3 linked regions of the Homo sapiens genome follow. The protein of the gene in region 3 purifies or fractionates together with the protein of the main gene of each other region. This does not show direct contact. Each region holds a gene or a part of one and is shown on either strand. Other genes may lie near its edges.

Region 1 (7,611 bases), on a different chromosome or scaffold from region 3:
GGCTGAGGCAGGAGAATCGCTTGAACACAGGAGGCAAAGGTTGCAGTGAGCTGAGATCACGCCACTGCATTCCAGCCTGGGTGACAGAGGGAGACTCCATCTCAAAATAAAATAAAATAAAATAAAAAATAAATAAACCAAGTAGGTAAAAGCAAAAAAACAAACAAAAAAGTTACATTGTATTGTTTTCTGGCCCCCATTATTTCTGTTGACAAGTCAGATGTCAGTCTAATTGTTCCTTTGAAGATTATGTGTCTTTTTTCCTCTGGTTACTTTCAACAGTTTTATTTTTACTATGAAGAATGAAAGTGTGGTACTCCTTGTATTTATTCTGCTTGTCGTTTCTTGCACTTTTCAAATCCATGGCTTGATATTTGTCATCGGTTTTAGAAAATTCTCAATCACTGTCTCTTAAAATATTACTGCTTCTAACTTTCTCTCCTCCAGTCATATGTATGTTAGACTTCTTCATCATTTCCTCATGTCTCTGTAATAGTTTCATATTGTTGCTGTCACAAGTTATCCAAAGCTATTGGCTTAAAGCAATACAAATTAACTTTCTTACAGTTCTAGACTCTGCCTAGCAAACACTGTGAGGGGAAAACAAGTTTTAAAAAAGTTTCTGGGTACTGTCCTTCTCTAGGGATCTTGACCCAAGAACTAGCTACCTGGAGATCTCTAAAATCCAAGTTTTGTCTGCTCCGCCCCATAAAACTAACAGCTTCTCTGCTTTTAGAAGAAACCCTCTGCTAAGTTTCACAGCATCTTGTCATGCTCTAAGAATTAGCAAATTCCTAGGAAAAAAGAGAAGCATGGAACATCAGCCCACTTCTCTGAAGCTCCTTTGGTTCTATGGTTGTGGTTTCTTAAGTCCTGGATGCCTCAGCAGGTCTCTGATGCCTTCACTTTTCTTTTTAATTCTCATCTTTCCTGTTCTTAGCAAAAGCATTAGTCTGCAGCAACCTCATCTCTCAGAGTCATAAGTGGAAACCATAGCTTGGGCTCTGAATAAAAACTCTACTGCTTATTAGTTAAGTGATTCGGCAAGTTATTTAACCTAGAGTATTTAAACATTTGAAGTTTCAATTTTCTTTCATGTAAAATGAACGTTAACACTATCTAATGAGGTTACTGTGAGGATGTGAAGATTAAATGAGACATATTTATAAAATGTCTGATAACAAAAACATTCTTATTGTAGGTTTTGTATGTGCCAAATACTTTATATAGATTTAATAATTTAATGTAGACATAGTTATCCTCCATTTCCTTTTCAAGACCACATATTAGTAAGTGATGAAGCTCAGATTTGATTCTAGAACACCAGTTTTCAATAACTACAAATTGTTGCTTCTATAATGTTGCTTGAGTATTGTTCCTGACACAAGTAAGTGGTCAGTAAATGTAAATTATTATTATATAGAAAATATAAATGCTTCAGAAATAGACACCAATCACATTAGTTTTTCTACTTTTTCTTCTGATGTTTCTCCTTTTCATTTTTGCAAAAACATTCTTACAACATCTTTCAATGTATTCTTAAAGACGCTATTGTGAAAAATGAATGTCTTACAGCCCACTGAGTAGATAGGCAATAATTTGCTTAGGCATTATTATATTGTTGAATATTTAGAAGGTTTCAAGTTTTAGACAGTATAGATATCAGTGCTATTAACATTTTGTGCCTTTAACTATTTTTCTTATTTAAAGTATTTTCTCAGAATGAAGTTCTATATGTGGAATTATTGGCTCAAAAGTATGAACATTTTATTATTTGTTGATATAACTGCTACTGTTATTAAGCCAAAAAGTTATGATAATTATGATGCCATCAAGCAACAAACATGAAGGTTTGTATCAAGAGAACAGGAATTAAAGCTATGAAGTATAGGAATGAAGGACATGTGGACATGGGGGAAAAAAAGGAGATATGAATTTTGAGGCTGGAAAAGAAAAAATGGGGTGCTGGAAATCATTTCTTTTGAAGCAGGCAAGCGCTAGTAATCCCAGCTACTTGGGAGGCTGAGGCAGGAGAATTGCATGAGCTCACTAGCGCCACTGCACTCCAGCCTGGGAGACAGAGCAAGACTCCGTCTCAAAAAAACAAAAAAAACAAAAAAACCCACCATATTAAATTATTATTATTTTGTTTAGTAGAGATGGGGTCTTGCTATGTTGCCTGTGTTAGTCTCAAACTCCTGGCCTCAAGCAATCCTCCTGTCTCAGCCTCCCAAAGTGTTGAGATTATAGATACAAACCACTGTGCCCGGCCAACATATTATTTAAAAATTATACATATAAATTGCAAAACAACCACACAGATTAAAGGCCTATGTTCTAGAGGCTCCCCCCTCCTTTTTTTTTTTTTTTGAGACAGAGTCTTGCTCTGTAGCCCAGGTTGGAGTGCAGTGGCTCGATAACAGCTCACAGCCTTGAACTCCTGGGCTTATGCGATCCTCTGGCCTCAGCCTCCTGAGTAGCTATGACCACATGTGTATATACCACCATGTCTGGCTATTTTTTATTTTTTTGTAGAGACAGCATCTCACTATGTTACCCAAGCCGGTCCCAAACTCCTGAGCTAAGGCGATCCTTCTGCCTTGGCTTCCCAAAGTGTTGGGATTACAGAAGCCACCACACCCAGCCTAGAGTCCACTTATTTGGTGTGTAATCTCGAGCCTTGAATTGCCTTATCTATAAATTGGGATTAAATTTTATAATATCCGACTAAAGCCAGAATTGGAACATCGTATCTCTTGTTTTATATTCCTGATATTAAATTTGTTTTGTGAGTATACCATACTTCAATAAAAATGAAGGAATCTCTCCTTTTTTGCTGATATGCTTTGAATGTCTTACACGCTATGCTTTGAATATCTTATCTTGTGATGAATATCCTGTTAAGAATCTTATGTCAGACTTTAAGTTACTATTTTAAAAGGTTACTTTACTTTGTGGGATTCTCTGAAGGCCAAGCCATTTGCCTGCTCTTTCTACAATCACATAAATCTTACTGGGTATACCCAAAGGCCGTTGCTTTTCTACAGCTGCCTTCCTCCTTCTTTGTTACCATCACAGATTTTGGGGTAGTAGGTACCTGATCATCAGGGAGAACACAGAAGGCCTTGAAAATGTGGGTTTAACCATACCAAGATCTTTCGCTCTGTTTATGTACTATAGCCTCCCCAGTAAAAACAAAACAAAACAACAAACAACATCTCTGCTAAATGCTTCATTATGAACACAGGTAAGTCAGTGCTTGATTGTCCCAAGTTCCAGTTCAGATTTTCCACTTTCCATTATCCTCCAGTAAATTTTAGTAGTGATACTGAGGGATCATGCAGTATGAGAATAAACACTGGCCTTAGAGGATCTGCATTCAAATCCTGTCTCTACCACTTACTGGTTAAGTGATTTTGGGCAAGTAATCTAATCTTTCTAAATCTTATTTTTCTCATATGGAAAAATGCCAAATTATTAGAATTAAGATAACATGTAGTGCCTAGCACAATACTACATAAATGTTAGTCAAGTGGGAATTGGAATTATGGCTCAGTGTGGTCTGAATCTGAATATTATTCAGAAAATAAGGACAGCAGCACTGAATAAAATTTTTTTTTGAGCTGAATAAAATTAGAGAATTTTGATTTCTAGGATCCTCAAAAATCCATATCCTTTAAAGAAGCCATATGGGGTAACATGTATAAGGGTCCTGAATTCCTTCATGTTCCAACAGATCCAGGTTCCAAGGTATGGAAACACTTATCAGATTATAAGCAAAGAGAACAATAATTTTATGTGTGTTCAACTAGCCAAATATTTTTGCTGGTAAAATCGTGGTGAAAACAACATCCTTATACATTGCTGTTATCATTAAAAATCAGTACAATCTTTTAGGGAAATGTAGGTATCATATCTAGAACTACCCATGCTTGTAGAACCATTAATCACACTCATAAGATTTTATCTTCAGAAAAAAAGTCAAATAAGGAAAATAGCTATAGTTTTATTTAATAGTGCCTGGCACATAAAAGGCACTCAAATATTTCTTCAAATGAATACCTTTATTTGTACTGACTTCTCCAAATCACTGCCCTTGGTTCCTTCTCATTAAGATTTATCTATTTTTATTACCTGAGGAGAGCTTTAGAATCAAATTCTAACATCTTTGTCTAGTCTCTATTCTCCCATCTTCCCCAGTAACTTTGTTTTGATTGCTACTAGACTCCTTACCTTAGAATACTCCCACTCTTTAAACTCAGCTGACCGTAACACAGAAACCAAAAAGACCATATACCACATCCTTGACCTAATCAAGAAGAAATCTGAAGCTTCCTTCAAGGTCATAAGATGTTTTTCTCCTTTGTTAATACCTCTGTAGTCTAAGTATTTACCAAAATCCCTGCTACATTAAGACAAAAACCCAGAAGCTATCCTCATATCCATCCTCACCTGATCCTTAACATACCTTTAGCCCTGTACCTAGCTGCTTATATTTCTCTCTAGGATCTGAGAAAGAATGATCATTTCCTTGCTTTCACACCTCTTGCTTCTTTCTTCTGGCTCCATTCAAAATTCTCTATTCTTCAAGTCTAAGTATCTCTCTCTTTTAGATATAATTCACATACCATAAAACTGACCCCTTTAGTGTATATTTCAGGATTTTTTTTGTACAGTTGACCCTTGAACAACATGGGTTGAACTGCATGAGTCTACTTATATGCTGATTTTCTTCTGCCTCCACCACTTGAGACAGTAAGACCAACCTTTCCTCTTCCTCCTTCTCAGCCTACTCAATGTGAAGATGACAAGGATGAATACCTTTATGATAATCCACTTCCACTTAACGAATAATAAATAGTAAACATATTTTTTCTTCCTTATCATTTTCTTAGTAACATTTTCTTTCTCTAGCTTATTGTAAGAATACAGTACATAGTACATGTAACATATAAAACATGTGTTAATCAACTATTTATGCTATTGGTAAGGCTTCCAGTCAGCAGTAAGCTATTTACGTAGTTAACTTTTTGGGGAGTCAGAAGTTATACATGGATTTTTGACAACACAGGGGTTAGCACCCCGAACCCCCTCATTGTTCAGGTGTCAACTGTATATTAGTATACAAGATATTTTAGTATATAAGGTTATGCAACCACCACCACTATCTAATTCTGGCACATTTTCATCACTTCCAAAGGAAACTCCATACTAGCAGTCACTCCCATTCCCATCCACTAATGTACTTTCTGTCTCTATTAGTTTTGCCTAATCTAGACATCTTAAATAAATGGAATCACATAATAGGTTGCCTTTTGTATGTGACTTCTTTCACTTTAATATTTTCAAGTTTTATCCATGTTACAGCAGGTATTGCTACTTTGTTTCTCTTTGTTGCTGAATAATATTCCATTGTATGGCTATATCGCATTTTGTTTAGTCATCCAATAATTAATGGACATTTGAGTTTGCCTTTTACAAATAAGGCTGCTACAAATATTTGTGTGCAAGTTTTTGTGTGAACATGTTTTAAGTTCTCTTGGATATATACCTAGGAGTGGAAATACAAGTTAAGTGTCCAAATATTTGATATAAAAATCTATTTGGTTTCTGAGTTCAGGTAGCAGAGGGTATCTCTCACAATGCAAACAATTCTATATTAAGCTCTCCATGCCATCCCTACTCAAACACCTACCATCTTCAAAGTCTGCAGATATTAGTAACAATTTACTTTTTTCCAATTAAATTGAGGAGCAGAGATCAGTTCTTACAGCTCCAGTTATATAGGAGGTGCTTAATATATGCTTATCTGACACCCTAAGAAGCTCCCAAATGAGAGAATGATGACTTACTATTCACTCTTTCATTTTATAGATATTTGAGTGTCTAATGTATGATAGCCATTGTGCTGATGCTGGGCATAATTGTGGACAAAAGTTATTGATCAGTTTTGTCATACTCCAAGAGCCAGCTCACGTCCACAAATATTTACTGAATACCTATGATGTGAATGGTCTTGTGCCAGGTATGACAGCACAGAGTGGAATAAGACCTAGTCTGCAGCCTTTTAGGGAAGGCATAAACTCTACCTACAACAACGCAATAAAAACAAACAAGAGGAGCACTGGACAGTAAGTGCTGTAAGAAAGGTATAATGCTCTGGAGAGTTAATGGACAGAACGTGTACAGTTTGGGAGAGTGTAGAAGAGGATGGATATCAGAAAATATTTCTTAAATGTGGTACTTGAGAAACGACCTCAAAGAAAGTGGCATTTTGATAGATGGGGATTCCTAGGAAAAAAGAGTGTTTCAGGCAGAAAATAGCATGAGCAAAAAAAAATATTAATGCTGGGTGCAGTACAGATTTTTTTCCCCCCAGAGGCGATCCCGTTTGGATGTGTAGATGAATAATGTGAGGTATGATCATAGTGTGAAAGGTCATTTTTGGTTTTCGTATTTAAATAAGTTTAGGAGAATGAGTTGAAAGTCTGCCTGTAACAATTCAAATTACCTTAGTGATTTGTGCCAAGATTAAGATTCCTTTTCTTGAAACTTTTCTATTTTGTATATCTTCTAATCATGGAAATTAGTGATTTCTCCTTCCCACAAGGAAAAAAAATTAAATCTTGACAACTGTGTGAGCATGCTGATAGGGGGACAAGGCTGAAGCTCAGTCAGTCTACCACTGCATCCCATACTGTGGGGAAAATGTAAAGCTTAAAACAGACATGTGGGCAAATCACAATAGCCAGAGTAGCAGAAGCAAGATTGGGGGTAAGATAATTGCATTAATGAAGCTTCTGGCACCAGGCATTGGACCAGGAGATTTACATACAACATTCTGATTCCACCAAACAACCCCATTTGGATTTAGGAAAACTGAGGCTTAGGGAGGTCAAATAAATTGCTCATGGTTACCAAGCTAGTAAGCTCAGCCAGTAAAATGCAGAGACCAGTGCTGAATTTGGGCCTATCTGATCCCATATTTTCCCCACTGTTCACTCTCATTTGTTTTCACAATACAAAAGAAGCTAGAATGGTAGGAAAATGATACATGTATCAATGAAAGGGACTGCATATTTAACACAGGGGCTTCTATGGTCTGGAGAAAAATTAGGCTGAAACATTCAAATCTGGGTTTAGAATGGCTTAGAGATTAAGACCAGGAGAGATCAAGTTTAGGGCTGCTTCTTTACCCAGTCTGAACAACGATCATAACATAGATCTTATTTAGGAATACCAAGGGAGCAAAATTCTAGTTTTAATTTGTAAATTAGAGAGTAAACTACAGTAGAATATGAATATTTGGCCGTATTTACTGTATTCAAAGTCCTGAGAACAGTGACTGGCATATAGTAGACACTCTAAACTTTTGCTTAAATAATGAAAAGTCACGTAAAGGGTATTCTCATTTGAATACCTGTGAAGGCTATGAAATAGAGACAGCAAAGCAGTAAGGTGAAAAACCATTCAGGTTCTTAAGATACTTTCTTTAATCCTCAACCCTACGGCAAAAACAACAACAAAAACAAACCACCACCAAAACGACAAACAAGGAAAGCAACAGTTGCAAAACATTAGCCTGATTTTACAAAGTAAAGTAGATGAAAG
Region 2 (7,611 bases), on a different chromosome or scaffold from region 3:
GACGTATGTCTTATTGCAGCCTATATATGAATAAACTGCCTTAACTTCAGGGCTAAAAGCTAGCTCTCAGTTTTGATTTTAAGAACAGTTAAATTACTTCCTTTTCATAAGAAAAACGTCGGAAAATGTGGACAACTGCTTATGTATGTATTATCTGGACTGTGATTTTACAAATTTAGGCTATTTCACACATAAACGGCAGCATTACTTAAATAACTAACAAATAGTGTCTTTAAAAACTAATTTTGAAGCACACATACAGATTGTCACCTATGAAATAATGACAATTAAGATTTTTTTAAAACATCAATACAGATACAGTCTACTAACTTTCTATTGTTTTTGTCTGAGGTTCAACAGAGGAAAGGAGGTAATCAAGAAAATACGTCAAGAAAATGTTCAAAACACTAAGTTCTGGAAGAATGCAGAACAGACATAGGCTAATTCAAGCAAGTCAGTGTGCCAGAATTGCTTTAAGAAGTTAAAGTAATTGAGAAAATACAAAAGAAACGCCATTCTTTTTTAATACCTTCTGTTTCAATTCAGACAAGATGCATCCTAAAACTCGAAATTTTCCAGAATCTAAAATCAAGTCCATGTCTAACTGAAAGTTATTAATGTGTCGGTACTGTTTACAAAGTACATGTAGTTCGAAGTCTGTCATAACTTCCATATCTTCAAAGATCAGGTCAGGGTTAGCCTCACAATGTGTAGGTTCCTTAAAACAAAACAAAACACAGTATACTTCAAAATAAAAATAATTAATAATATGATGAGAAAAGTTTAATAAAACTGTTTATACCTGATAAAATATCTAAATCATAGAACCTTTTAGTGTAACAGACTTATCAAGGAAAATTAGTATTAATCTTTTAGGTATAATAAAGGGGGAGAAGTCCTTACTGTTTGAGAGATAACATACTAAAATATTTACAGATGAAATAACATCTAGAACTTGGTTCAAAATAACCCTGGGGAGAAGTCTGGGGTATAGATGAAACAAGGGTGGTGTTATTATCAAATGGTAACTTTCAAAGGGGTGAAGTAACATATGGGCAGTTTCATTATGCAATTCTACTTTTATAAATGTTTGAAATTCTCCATAAGTTTAAAATAATAAAAAAAAATTTAAAAAGAAATGGGTTGGTCAGGTGCAGTGGCTCACGCCTATAATCCCAGCACTTTGGGAAGCCGAGGTGGGTAAATCACCTAAGGTCAGGAGTTCGAGACCAGCCTGGCCAACGTGGTGAAACCCCATCTCTACTAAAAATACAAAAATTAGCTGGGCGTAGTGGTAGGTGCCTGTAATCCCAGCTACTCAGGATGCTGAGGCAGGACAATCACTTGAACCTGGGAGGCGGAGGGTGCAGTGAGCAGAGATCATGCCATCGCACTCCAGCCTGGGCGACAAGAGCAAAAGTCTATCTCAAAAAAAAAAGTAAAGAAAAGGAAGAAAATGGGTTGCTTTCAACCAAAGATCAGTAAGGATAAATAAGGTTAAAATGTTAAAGGAGAAAGAGGCAAAAATAAAGAGTAATTGCTAAAATTATAAAGAAATAAAATGAAAAAGAAGTGCATTATGGAAGTCTAGACTAGGAGTTAGCAAACTGTTCCTGTAAAGGGCCAGATCATATTTTAGGCTTTGTAGGCAAAATGACCTGTAAGGCAAGTACTCAACTCTGCCCCTGTAGTGAGAAAGCAGTCCCAGAAAACAAAAACAGGCATGACTGTGTTATAGTAAAACCTTATTTATAAAAATAGTCACTGCCGTAAGGCCATAGTTTGCTGACTTATAATGTAGGTTATCAGTCCTTCTTTGTTTTTATGTCCCCCAGATCATTTTGAACTTAGTCTAAAATGTGTTTTTCGTGTTTCAGTGCAGTGACTGATGCCTGTAATTCCAGCACTTTGGGAGGCCAAGGCGGGCGAATCGCTTGAGCTCAGGAGTTCAAGACCAGCCTGGGCAACATGGCAAAACCCCATCCGTACAAAAAAATTAGCCGGGCATGGTGGTGCGTGCCTGTAGTCCCAGCTATTCAGCAGGCCAACGCAGGAGGATGGCTTAAGCCTAGGAGGCAGAAGTTGCAGTGAGCCCAGACTGCCTGCCTTGGCAACAGAACCAGACCTGGTCTGAAAAAAAAAAGTTTTTCTTAAATATGTAGTTAAAGGTTTAGTATGCCCATTGGGTTCACCAATCTTATAGCCTAACAACTTAACCTCTTATTAAAGCTTAGTGTTAACATAATATGAAATCCTTACCTTTAGCATAAGCTGAGACATTTCCTTGAGTTTTTCAGCTGTGTAATATTGGCGATGTAATAAAGGATGATTGGCCATTTTCCTCAACTGCATCATGACATTGCACATTTCTGTGTTTTTTTCTGTGACTCAAAGAGAACACAGTAAAAAATAAAACCAAGCGGATAACTGTTGAAATATATCAACTAAGTTTTAAAATTATTTCCTCAAATTCCAGATAATTTTTTAAAATGCACAAATCCCATTATATGACTAAACAAAATGCATCCCCAGTACAAGATTCTTTTTCACATAAAAGAGTAAAAATCAGATTATACCCAAGTTATTGATAGATTTTTTCAATCTGTTGAAAAGACCCAAATAGAGTTGCTCCTGCTTCTCCGACATTGCACACAACTCAATTCGATCTTTCTTGGGGGGTAACTGCTTGAGAACCTGAGACAGAAAAAACAGTTTAAGATAATCATTCTAGTAAAGAGAAAAACCTAAGTTTTAAAAACAATAAAAATAAAAAACATGTAGATATGCATTACCTCTTCTTTTACTCTTCTGAGAATAAATGGCTTTATAATTTGTTTTGCATGTGCTATTCTCTCCTTTTCATATATGCTTTGCTCATCTGCTGATTTCTGAGCAAAATAAAAACATATCCTTTTAGGAATTATTCACTTAAATTATTGCAATAACAGTATTATTACACAACATAAAAATCTCCCTCATTAGAGTCTGAGTTATTTTCTGCAGAAACTTGATTCATTCTAGATGGCACTTCACATCTGAATTCTGGGCTGCCATGTACTTCTTGAAGCTCCATATGTATTTTGAAGTTTTATGATACGTAATCATGTTCTCTACTGAAGTAATCAATTTGAACTGTACCAGATGGGTGTTCAGAAGTCATCAACTGATGAGTCATGTATCGATTACCTAGATAACTCTCATTGAAAAATGTGTCTAAGTGTGGGTAAGGAGGAGCGTGGGGGGTAGAAAATCCTTTATTTCTTTGTGGAAAATGGCCCCAAAAGGAAGCTAGTGCAGACTGATGCAAATCACTTGGTCTAAAAATGGGGAATAGTGCTTAGTCAGAACTGGTGACTCTGGAGAATTAAGAAGTAGAATTTTATTCTAGGATGTGAAGGAGTCCTCCATATATTATGAACTGAAGATAGAAAATGGTTCATAAAATCTGCTAGGCCATTTAAAACACTGTACATTAAGTGGGAGGGAATTCAAATTAGTAAATGTTTAAAAGGCAGTTAATTTGCAGTGGACGAGTATCACAGAAAATTCTTGCAAAAGATTAGTGATGTGGAAGAGAGCCAAGAATCAGTGTAAACACTGCGGTATTGAAAAAACTGGGAGTTCTTGAAGACTATACTTTTCCTAAACAATAAAGAAGTAACAAAACTTTTCTTGTGAAGAGGATTTCTTTACTGTCGCTTTTAGTTGTGACTTTGGTTTTATGAACTTTTATTTCAGAATATATTTCTCAGCATAGGCATTTTCTGGATATTCTAGCTTTGTCTAGTTTTATAGTTTACCCATAAAGAAATGTTACTAATTTACGTAGCCAATTTTGATACAGATGATGTAATGATCAAACTTTCCGCACATACTATATATCTGAGCTCTTCATCAATTTAAAATCGTCATCCTTCAGAAAATTAGGATATTAACCAAGACTTCTGGCCATTGATTAGGGAAATTGCTATTTTCTTTCCCATTATATTTTGGCTGGTTTCCAAACCAATCCAAATATAGAGTTATCACCTACTTAAAGTTACTTCATAGAGCATATGCACTATGAAAACAACAAAAGAGACCTAACAGAAGAATGGCCCAGATAAAACACAAATAACATATTTGGGAGAAAATATGCATTTATGCTTACTGTCTTAGAGGAAAACATTCTTCGTATTTCACTGGTGCTACTACTAAACATGTGTGGCATAACAAAATTCAACAGCGACATGAGTTCTAACAGATTGTTCTGTACAGGTGTGCCTGTGAGCAGCAAACGGTTATTTGCCTGTGAATGAAGGTAAAATTTATATTAGCTTTTTCTTAAAGAGCCACTCCTTTCATGTCTATCCTCCCCAGTGAAAGGTGAAGGGAGGAGAGATAAATTAAAACCATTATTAATAATTTAACATTCTGTGATAAATGATATAGTAATTTAAATAATTGACGTCCGCTATTATCAACAGCAATGAATACGAAAACCATTGGTCTTCTTTTATAAGTAGGTAACTTGTGTCCTCGTATCACCTTTATGAGATGATGAAAGATTATTTATAAATAGTTTAACATATAGAACAGGTAAATTATGGCTTATGACCTAATAATTTTTTAAAGGGTTGTTAAAAAACAAAATCAAAGAATACGTGACAGAGGCCATCTAGTCCATAAAGTGTGAAATATTTACTATCTTCCCTTTTACAGAAAAAACTTGCTAACACAGAATACTACATATATTAAACTACATAATACAGATTCTGCTAATAAATACTACATATATTAAATTACGTAATCTAAATTTTACAGTAATTTGGAAAACTTTACAAACATTCTCTTACATTAATTGTCATAAGGTGCTGGTAGCGAATGGAGCCCATATTCTTCAGCATATGGCCCTCATCAAAAATTGCGTAATTAAGTTTCAGCCGTCGAAACAGACTACGGTCATCAGAACTGCTGATCGCACAGTTATATCTGTCACCAAAAGAAAAAACATCTCTAAGGTTATACCTTTAAGAGCTTGGAGTCTAGTGAAATTTAATGTCTTATAAAATCATTTTTTATTTACACATTTCTAACAGCCAGTACTTAAAGCACAGCACTAGACACGGGTGATACTCAAATAAATACTGACGTACTTGTATTTAATAATTATTGATGTACACTGTAACCAAGCTATGAAAGCTGCAATACATAATTGAAAGAAAATGTTAAAAGGCTGGGAGCGGTGGCTCACACCTGTAATCCCAGCACTTTTGGAGGCCGAGGCGGGCGGATCACGAGGTCAGAAGATCGAGACCATCCTGGCTAACACGGTGAAACCCTGTCTCTACTAAAAATATAAAAAATTAGCCGGGTGTGGTGGTGGGCGCCTGTAGTCCCAGCTATTCAGGAGGCTGAGGCAGGAGAATGGCGTGAACCCGGGAGGCAAGAGGTTGCAGTAAGCTGAGATCGCGCCACTGCACTCTAGCCTGGGGGACAGAGTGAGACTCCGTCTCAAAAAAAAAAAAAAAAAAGAAAATGTTAATGTTACAATCGGACAACTTCTACATACCCAGGAGGAGGTCAATTTGGGTATAACTTGTAAGTAATCTGCTCCATGAAGTGTTATATTTTAATAAGCACAAAAAAGAACGTGAAGCTAAAACATGTTTCTCTTTAAAACTTAATATTTTATTAAACTAGCAGATTAGATCCAAGAAATAATAGTTAATAGCTAGCAGCTTGAGACTGCATATGGAGCCTGTTTTATTAAGAAAAAATAAAATTCCGCATGAATTTTTAAAGGACAGACTCCTACACAAGAAGCCAGTAGAGAGAAATAATAACTACAGTTAAAATAGAACTTTAAATAAATCAACTAATGTAACACAAGAGCATTAAGTTCTGTGCAAGATATTTACATCAATTATTACCAAGTAGTATTATTAGTATTATTTTTCATTTTTATTTCTGCCCTAACTCAAATTTTTCATTGAGAAAATGAAATTTCATTGTATTTATTACAGATACTTATTTGTAAGTTAAAAATATAAATAATTTTGGTGGGATATCTCAAATTTTACTTTAAGCTTAACTGAGAAATTACTATTACAAGACGACTTTTTTCAATAACTAGGCAAAACCTTTTTATAGTCACCATTAATGAGGTGATTCACTAACAAAAACCTCCTATATGGGTATTACACACCAAACTAAAAAATGCCTGAATCCTCAACATTAGTCATTCTATTACTTTCGTATCACAGTTAACAGCATAAACTTTCCTACATAGTACTACTACAATTTCTTTTTTAAATTTGGGGGCTGCATAAATATCCATCCTCCCCAAATTTCTCAATACTTACGTGGTCACAATTACATTGTAATCTTCATATCTACTATGAATGTTAAATCTAATTTGTTTACGTTCTTCTTGAGAACCTAGAATTTAAAAACAATAAACACATGACTATTTATTGTGCTGTACTTTATTTTTAATTTCCAAAGTTAAAAGCAGAATGACATATTCTTACCATAGTAACAGAGGACCTTCAAAGTAGGGCACCATAAATTAACTTCCCTTAACCAGTTATCTATGGAACAGAAGAGACATTATTTGCATCTGCTACAATAGGGTATGTTCACATGGTTAAATTAACACTAAACTTTGACAAGTGCTACTCAGAAATCAGTCTTTTATAAAAAGTAAATACTGGCCCAGCAAGGTGGCTCATGCCTGTAATCCCAACACTTTGGGAAGCTGAGGCGGGTGGATCACCTGAGGTCAGGAGTTTGATACCAGCCTGGCCAACATGGTGAAACCCCATCTCCACTAAAAATACAAAAATTAGCCAGGCATGGTGGCGGGCGCCTGTAGTCCCAGCTACTCGGGAGGCTGAGGCACGAGAACCTGGGAGGCGGAGGTTGCGGTGAGCCAAGATTGAGCCACCACACTCCAGCCTGGGTGACACAGCGAGACTGTCTTAAAAAAAATAAATAAAAATTAAAAATTAAAATATAAATACCATGGCGATTGTTTTTATCACAGACCCTTTACAATATTACTCCTTATGAAACCTATGTAAAATGATCTTGAGGTTTTGTGAGGCATCAAAATGAAGGGCAGATGACCAAATATTATATTTACAGTTGATTATTAACCTCCAATTTAAAGAGAAGGGGGTTTTCTTTGTTACATTCACATGTACAAATATTCTCTTATTCTAACTTCTACATCCAACGAATTGAGAAAGAATGGAACAGTTATGTGTGTAGGAATTAATTACGTATCTGTTTAATTCTACATTTAAAAGTACTCATTTTCTCTTAGTCACTTTTAAAAGTAACTAAAAGTATTATGAAACCAACATAAATCGTCCTTGGTCTAAAATTTTAAAACTGACTTACATTTGAGTTCTTTTTAAAAGACTGCCAATATAATCAAACACACATATATAAACAAAGGAGAAAAGTATAAAGAGACCATAAAATTAATATTCATCTCTACAAACTAAGAAACCACAACACCCCTCCGACACACACCCTTACACACACTCTCTTCTACCTATATAAAACATGATAAAGTTAAATACAGTTGTCTCCAGTATTACAAACCTATAGTTGAAGCTGGAA
Region 3 (7,594 bases):
GGAGGCCAAAGTGGGAGGATCACTTGGGGCCAGGAGTTCAAGACCAGATCCGGCAACATAGAGAGACCCCGTCTCTACAAAAAATGAAAAAATAAGCTGGGCATGTGGCACGTGCCTGTAGTCACAGCTACTGGGGAGGCCGAGGTGGGAGGATCACTTGAGCTCAGGAATTCCAGGTAGCAGTGAGCTATGATCAAGCCACTGCACTCCAGCCTGGGTGATAGAGTGAGACTGTTTCTAAAAAATTTCAAAAAAATCAATTAAAAAAATACAAAAATTGGAGGGCAGCTGAGGCTAGGCAGGCCAGGAATTGGGTTGAAGTAGCCCCTGCCCTGTTTGTCCCTCAGGCCCTTGTCCCCAACAGGCCTGCAGCAGGAAGAATGCTTGCTACTTTGAGAGGACCTGAGGTCTTGGGTCCTTCCCCAGCACTGTGAGCTCCGAGCTCCCAGCTAAGCACGGTGTCCAGCAGTCGCTCTCAGGGTTCCAGTGAGGGAGGAGGGGAGCAAGGGCCCCCCGCATCCCACCTCCCAGCCTGGTACCAATACTGCTGCTTACCCAGGGACAGTACCTGCCTGGTGCCAGGCCACCACAGGTTTCCGCGCAGGGAGAGCCAGCTCCAAAATGCTCCTCTCCCCAGGAAGGGCTGGTGTCCTGGGGTGGCGGGGAGTAGGGAGACTCCCAGGGCCCTCACTGCCCACCTGCCCCACAGGGCAGCCATGCTGAGCACTCCCTCTCGCACATGGATTCTGCCTGGAGGCTTTGGCTCCAGAACAAACGCGCTGAGGCTGGCAACCAATGACTGAGCGAGCGGCTGCCTGCCTGGCTGGGCCTCCCCACCCCTGACAGATCGGATCTTATCAGGGCTGCAGGAACAGCCCTACCTGGACACCATCTCAGTGTCGTCTGGCTGTCTCGATCCAACGGCGAAGATTGGATCTGTGGGATTCTCTCCAGCACCAGAGCCATTTCCCATCACCTGCTGCTCTGCCCCCACCCCACCCCAAGATTGTTGTCAGAGGCCGGCTGGGAGTGCTCCCAACAGATCCCCATAGGGGCCACCGGCCAAAACATGGTGAGTCCCATCAAGGTGGATGGCAAAGACAGACCAAATACCCATCTAGGCAGACAGGGACGGCAGAAGGAGGGGACATCTGAACAGCCATGGTCCCCCAGACCCTTAAGCCAGGAGAGTAATGCTGTGGCCCCGTACCACTCTGGTTCTCCTGGGTCCCCTGCCCACCCCTCAACATGCCAAAACCCCTCCCTCGAGGGACCACTGCACTAGCTGTTTCCCACCTACAACATTGTTCCCTCACATGCTCATGGTTCATTCCATTGCTTCATCCACCTCCTCCAGGAGGCCTTCCCTGACTACCCTCACCAAAGGACCCCCACTAGTCAGCCTCTCTCACAACATCAGATGCGGCTGTCTTCATCGCACATCACCATGGGATTTTCTTGTTCTTACATCTGTCCATTTGTTTCTGGCCACAGAGAGACATCTGGAATGTCAGCTCCCTGGTGGCTCGGCCTCGTCTGTCTAGTTAACAGCTCTATCCCAGCTCCCAGAATGGTGCCCGGTGGGAAGGAGATGCTCAATATTTGGGGGCTGAACACGTAATTCTCTCCAGGACTTGTCCTCCTCCCCATCCTTTCTTCCACCACCACCAGCCTCCATCTGGCTGGACCTGGCTCAGCTTCCAGAGGTGCGTGAGCCACAGTGGGCTCCCAGCTCCTGGGTCTCAGCGCTGACTGGCATGGCCAGCAGGCTGTTGTTACTGGAGAACCAGCTGTGCCCAAGACCCGCAGTTTGGTTCAGAGCTGCCTCAGGGAAGAGCATGCTGCTGACATCGAGGCCAGGCCTAGTTGGGCGGCCCCACCTTGGCCAGGGTTGTGGGGTGAGGTCATGCCCAGCCCTGCTGCCCTGCCCAGGAGGGAAGTGCTGGGAGTAACCAGTACCAGCACAGCAAGGCAAGCAACTGGGGAGAGGAGGCACAGCTCCTGGGATCAGAGTTGGGGGTGGGGGCAGGAAGAGCCTGTACCAGCGCCACATCCCTCTGAAAGGGTCCAGGAAAGAACCTGCCCTAAGCAAGCCCACCTCACACTGCCCAAGTGGAGTCTCCTAGAGATACTGCCAGGCCCCTCGCTGCCCTGGCCATCAGACCCCTCCAACCCACACCCTCCATCCAAGCGGAAGCGCCCCAGCAACTGACGTGTCCCCATGGCTTGGGGCAGGCAGGCTGCACAGAGCCCCTGCTCTGCCACATCACCCAGGTGCCCAGCCTCGGCTCATGCCCCTTTTCAGTAATAGAAAGCATGTAACTGGATCTAGGGCCTTGCGGGCCCTGGGGGAGAAGGTGGACAGGACCTTGGGGGCCAATGGAGAAAGGTTCAAGGACAGGAGGCAGCTGGCCATGAGTTTGGGCTGTGGGGAGAAACCCCATAGGCAGGAGGGGGTCGGCAGTGGGGGCCAGCTGGGGTACAGAAAATCATCTCTTGGAATTTGGAGGAGGTGAGCGAACAGGAGGCCCCGGGGAGGAGCAGGAAGGCAGAGAGAAGGTTGGGAGCTGCCAGGGGCTGGGTTATGCCCCTTCCGGGGGGGCAGGCCCGGGAGCGCAGGGCCTGGGTTGCTCGGATGAGGTTTGTGTGGGTGCGGGTGAGGTCAGCTCGCGACCTGGGCTCCCCCGGAGAGGAAAGCTGCGGGTGGAGAGAGCGCAGGGAGTTTCAGGGCCCAGGCACTGGCTTTTGGGGGGCGGGTCTCTAAGCTCCCCACCCGAGAGTAGGAAGGTCCCATGGGACGGAGCGTCCTCAGGTTCAGGAAGTGACTGAGGGTCCTCAGGGGTGGGAGTCGCCGAGACTCTTGCAGGCTCTGGGCGGCCTATGTCCCCCTCCCTGCCTCACGCCCCCCAATTTACCTGGGCGCCGAGGCCCGGGCCAGGAGCGCCTGCTCAGCGGCGCCGCGGAGCAGGCTCATGCCCGCGTCACGGCGCGGCTGGCGGGGGCGGCAGGGCGGCGGCGGCGCCGGGCTCCAGGCGGGGACGGCGAGGGAGGCGCGGCCGCAGGGCTAGGGATCGGGCTCCGGCTGGGGCTCCGGCTGGGACTCCGCTCCGCTCCCCCCTCCGCCAGGTCTCGCCGCTGCGCCCCGCCCCCTGCCCCGCCCTGGCGGCCGGCCCCCGCCGTATTCCTCCGAGCCGCGGGACGCGCGATTCTGCCCTGGCGCCCTGGCACCCCCGCACCCGCTTCAGGTCGCCCCCGGTACCCCCAGCTCATTCCCACCGCCCCTCCCTGGGCCCCAAAGCCCACATGGCCTCTCAGCCCCTGAAAGCTGAACTCCACATCAGCTCCCAGCCCCCACATCTCAACCCCTTCACTTCTTCAGGAATCACATACACACCCATACGCCACATCAGCTCCCAGCCCCCATATCTCAATTCCTTCACTTCTTCAGGAATCACATACACACCCATTGCTCCCCTAACCCCATCATGACTCTCTGGGCCCTCACAGCCCAGCTCTCCCAGCCCCACAGTGACCTCCTCTGCTACCCCTCCTCAAGTAGCCGCACCAGCACCTCTGTCTTCCCTGGTCTCCTCTCCACCCTCAAAACATCCAGTTCTCCCATTCTAGGTCCCCCTGAGACTTTGCCCTCAAGCTCAAACTTCATTCCCCTTCATTGCTGCCCCCACCCAGCCCCCAACCCCCTCACCTCTGCCCTTCGGGCCTGTGCAGTGGTTGACTCACTGATCTGTCGGAATCCCCAGTCACAGGCCTCAGCTGTGCCAGGCAGGGACAAGAGAAGTTGCCCAGTGCCTCCTCTGGGGAGGAGCTGTCCCCCCTCTGGTTTTCACGTCTGTACCTTTTTACACCAGGGCTTCTCAAAGTGTAGTCCCTGGACCAGAAGCTTCCCATCACCTTGAAACTTGTTAGAAATGCAAATTCCCTGCCCTACTCAGACCTATGAAATCAGAATTTTTGGGGGTTTCCAGCAGAAATGTGTGTTTTAACAGGCCAGGTGATTCTGATGCACACGAATGTGTGAGAACCACTGCTTTAGACCATATATACAAAACAAAACAATAGGCCACCTGAACAGCCAAAATCCTGAGAAATGAAAATACCTCCACATCCAGCTACTGTCCAGGTGTCTCAGAGGAATAGGCCTAAAGCAGTGAGGGACCAAGGATCCCAACACCCACCCATGGAATGCATGCCCCTGCCCCGGAGACGCCTGGGCCTCAGCCTTGCCCAGGGAGCTTAAAAGGAGGCTGCCTCTGGATGTCTGAAAATTTCCCTGATGGTCATTGTGGTGTCTGTGATCAGCCTGAGCTAACCAGCCCCAGGCCCATGGCCAAGCTAGCCTGGGCCTCAACCTCCTGACCTCCCTATGCGTCTTTCAAACTTGACCTCACCTGCTTTGCTTCAAACCACAGCCCCTAAAGCTCCCAGCACTTGATTCATCATAGCAAACTGTTTTTCAACACCAGAAACCTCTAGGGGAGCTTTGGCCAACAACAACAACACAAATGAATTTTCACAATAAAAAGCCTTCTTTTTTTGTTACTGAGGCTGGAGTGCAGTGGTGTGATCTCAGCTCACTGCAACCTCTGCCTCGGGGCTTAAGTGATCCTCCCTGCTCAGGCTCCTCAGTAGCTGGGTCTACAGGTGTGCACCACCACGCCTAGCTAATTTTTTGGATTTTTTTGTAGAGACAGGGTTTCACCATGCTGCCCAGGCTGGTCACAAACTCCTGAGCTCAAGCAATCCACCTGCTTCGGCCTCCCAAGGTGCTGGGATTACAGGCATGAGCCACTGCACCCCATGTGATGATTTGCTTTTTTACTGTTGAATTTCGAGAGTTGTATATTCTACCTACTAGTCCTTTGTTGAATATGTGGTTTGCAAATATTTTCTCCCAGTTTTTGGCTTGTCTTTTCATCCACTTAACAGAGTCTTTCACAAAACAAAAGTTTTAAATTTCGATAAAGTCTGAATTATCCATGTTTCCTTTTATGGATCACACTTTTGTTGCCTAATCTAAAAACTCTTTGAATTTTCTCCTGTGTTTTATTCTGAAAGTTCCATAATTTTATTTTACATTTAAGTCTGTGATCCATTTTGAGTTGAATTTTATAGGAAGTGTGAGATTTGATAGAGGTTTTGATGTCTTTTTTTGGTTTAGGTTTGATTTCATTTTTTTTTTTTTTTGCCTGTGGATGTCTGATTGTTCTAGCTCTATTTGGTGAAAAGACTCTCATTGAATTGCTTTTGCAACTTCGTAAAAAATCAGTTGGACATATTTCTGGATTCTCTGTTCTATTTCACTGATCTGCATGTCTATCTCTCTGTTAATAACAGTCTTGATTACTATGCCTATATAGTAAGTCTTAAGGCCAGGAGCAGTGGCTCATGCCTATAATGCCAGTACTTTGGGAGGCCAAGGCGGATGGATTACTGGAGGTCAGGAGTTCAAGACCAGCCTGGCCAACATGGTGAAACCCCATCTCTACTAAAAATACAAAATTAGCTGGGTGTGGTGGCGTGTGCTCGGGAGGCTGAGGCAGGAGAATCGCTTGAACCTGGGAGGCAGAGGTTGCAGTGAGCCAAGATCGCGCCATTGCACTCCAGCCTGGGCAAAAAGAGTGGAACTCTGTCTCAAAAAAAAAAGTCTTAAAATCAGGTAGACCAGTGGTCCCCAACTTTTTGGCACCACAGACAGTTTCATAGAAGATAATTTTTCCATGGATGTTGTGGGAGTGTTTTCAGCATGATTCAAGCACAATACCTTTATTGTGCACTTTATTTCTATTATGATTACATTGTAATATATAATTAAATAATTACACAACTCACCATAATGTAGAATCAGCGGGAGCCCTGAGCTTGTTTTCCTGCAATTAGACAGTCCCATCTGGGGGTGATGGGAGACAGTGACAGATCATCAGGCATTAGATTCTCATAAAGAGCCTATGACCTAGATCCCTCGCATGCACAGTTCACAATAGGGTTTTGTTCCTATGAGAATCTAATGCTGCTGCTGGTCTGACAGGAGGCGGAGCTCAGGTGGTAATGTGAACAATGAGGAGCGGCTGTAAATACAGATGAAGCTTCATTCATAGCTGCTCACCTCCTGCTGTGCAGCCAGGTTCCTAACAGACCACAACCAGTACCGGTCTGTGGCCCAGGGATTGGGGACCTCTGAGGTAGATTGTTATTAATTCCTCCCAAGTTATTGGTTTGTTTGTTTGCCACAAGGTTTCACTCTGTCCCCCAAGCTGGTGTGCAGTGGCATGATCATAGCTCACTGCAGCCTTGAGTGCCTGGGCTCAAGGAATCTTCCACCCTCAACCTCCTGAGTAGCTGAGACCACCATGCCCAAGTAATTTTTTAAATTATTGTGTAGAGATGGAGTTCTTACTATGTTGCCCAGGTTGGTCTCAATCTCCTGGCCTTAAGTGATCCTACCAGCTTGGCCTCCCAAGTGTTGGGATTACAGGCATGAGCCAATGCGCCCAGCCCCAACTTACTCTTTTTCAAAATTGTTTCAGCTGTCCTGGTAATATTCTCTATCTTTCTATGTAAATTTTAGAATAATGTTATCTATATCTACAGAATATCTTGCTGGGATTCTGATAGAAATTACATTAAACCTGTATATCAATTGGGGAGCATTGACATTTTTACTATGCTGAGTCTTCCAATTCAAGAACACAGTATGTCTCTCCATTTATTTATTTATTTCTAATGTCTTTCATCAGCATTATGGAGTTTTCAGCATACAGGTCCTATACACATTTTGTTAGCTTTCCACCTAATTATTTTATTTACTTATTTTTGGTGATTTTAAATGGTATTGCATTTTTAATTTTGCTGCCCATGAATGAGTTCATTGCTGGTATATGGAAATAATTTTTGTATAATTATATTTTGCAACCTTGCTGAACATATTAGTTCTAGGAGGTTTTTGTCTTTTTTTTTTTGGTAGATTCTTTGAGATTTTCTACATAGATAATCATGTCATCTGCATGTAGAAAAGGTTTTTTTCCTCTTTTTCTACCTATTTGTTAGTGGTTTATCACATTGGCTAAAATGTTCAGCACTATGTTGTAGTATGAGCTGACATCCTTACCCTGTTGCTGATCTTCGGGGAGAGCATTCAATTTTTCATCATTAAGGACCAACGTTAGCTGTAGGTTTTTTGTAGATGCTCTTTATCAAATTGTGGAAGTCCTCCTCTCTTATTTTTTGAGAGCTTTTTACCATTAATGAACGTTTAATTTAGTCAAATGCTTTTCTATACTAATATATGATTTTTCATCTTTAGCCTGTTTTTTTGTTTGTTTGTTTGTTAGTTTTTTTCCTTGAGACAGAGTCTTGCTCTCTTGCCCAGGCTGGAGTGCAATGGCACCATCTCTGCTCACTGCAACCTCCGCCTCCCAGGTTCGAGCGATTCTCCTGCCTCAGCCTCCTAAGTAGCTGGGATTACAGGTGCCTGCCACCACACCCGGCTAATTTTTGTATTTTTAGTAGAGACAGGGTTTCACCATGTTAGCCAGGCTGGTCTTGAACTCCTGACCTCAGGTGATCCACCCACCTC

Evidence for each region. The genes of interacting proteins can lie anywhere in the genome.
Region 1: the proteins of DOK4 (region 3) and HMG20A purify together in Homo sapiens (affinity purification with mass spectrometry; 4 studies listed by BioGRID and IntAct, with this or other methods). This does not show direct contact.
Region 2: the proteins of DOK4 (region 3) and SMARCAD1 purify together in Homo sapiens (affinity purification with mass spectrometry; 3 studies listed by BioGRID and IntAct, with this or other methods). This does not show direct contact.

Annotation. Positions count from the first base shown.
Region 1 is NC_000015.10:77,423,722-77,431,332, reverse strand, and holds part of HMG20A (high mobility group protein 20A), read right to left. Parts: intron 1-7,611. UniProt on the Homo sapiens protein: Plays a role in neuronal differentiation as chromatin-associated protein. Acts as inhibitor of HMG20B. Overcomes the repressive effects of the neuronal silencer REST and induces the activation of neuronal-specific genes.
Region 2 is NC_000004.12:94,273,699-94,281,309, reverse strand, and holds part of SMARCAD1 (SWI/SNF-related matrix-associated actin-dependent regulator of chromatin subfamily A containing DEAD/H box 1), read right to left. Parts: coding exon 7,594-7,611; intron 6,573-7,593; coding exon 6,513-6,572; intron 6,421-6,512; coding exon 6,345-6,420; intron 4,972-6,344; coding exon 4,836-4,971; intron 4,289-4,835; coding exon 4,151-4,288; intron 2,889-4,150; coding exon 2,793-2,888; intron 2,695-2,792; coding exon 2,577-2,694; exon of another isoform or gene 2,388-2,576; coding exon of another isoform or gene 2,382-2,387; coding exon 2,260-2,381; intron 719-2,259; coding exon 530-718; intron 1-529. UniProt on the Homo sapiens protein: DNA helicase that possesses intrinsic ATP-dependent nucleosome-remodeling activity and is both required for DNA repair and heterochromatin organization.
Region 3 is NC_000016.10:57,483,390-57,490,983, forward strand, and holds the start of DOK4 (docking protein 4), read right to left. Parts: upstream 3,105-7,594; 5' UTR 2,916-3,104; intron 1-2,915. UniProt on the Homo sapiens protein: DOK proteins are enzymatically inert adaptor or scaffolding proteins. They provide a docking platform for the assembly of multimolecular signaling complexes.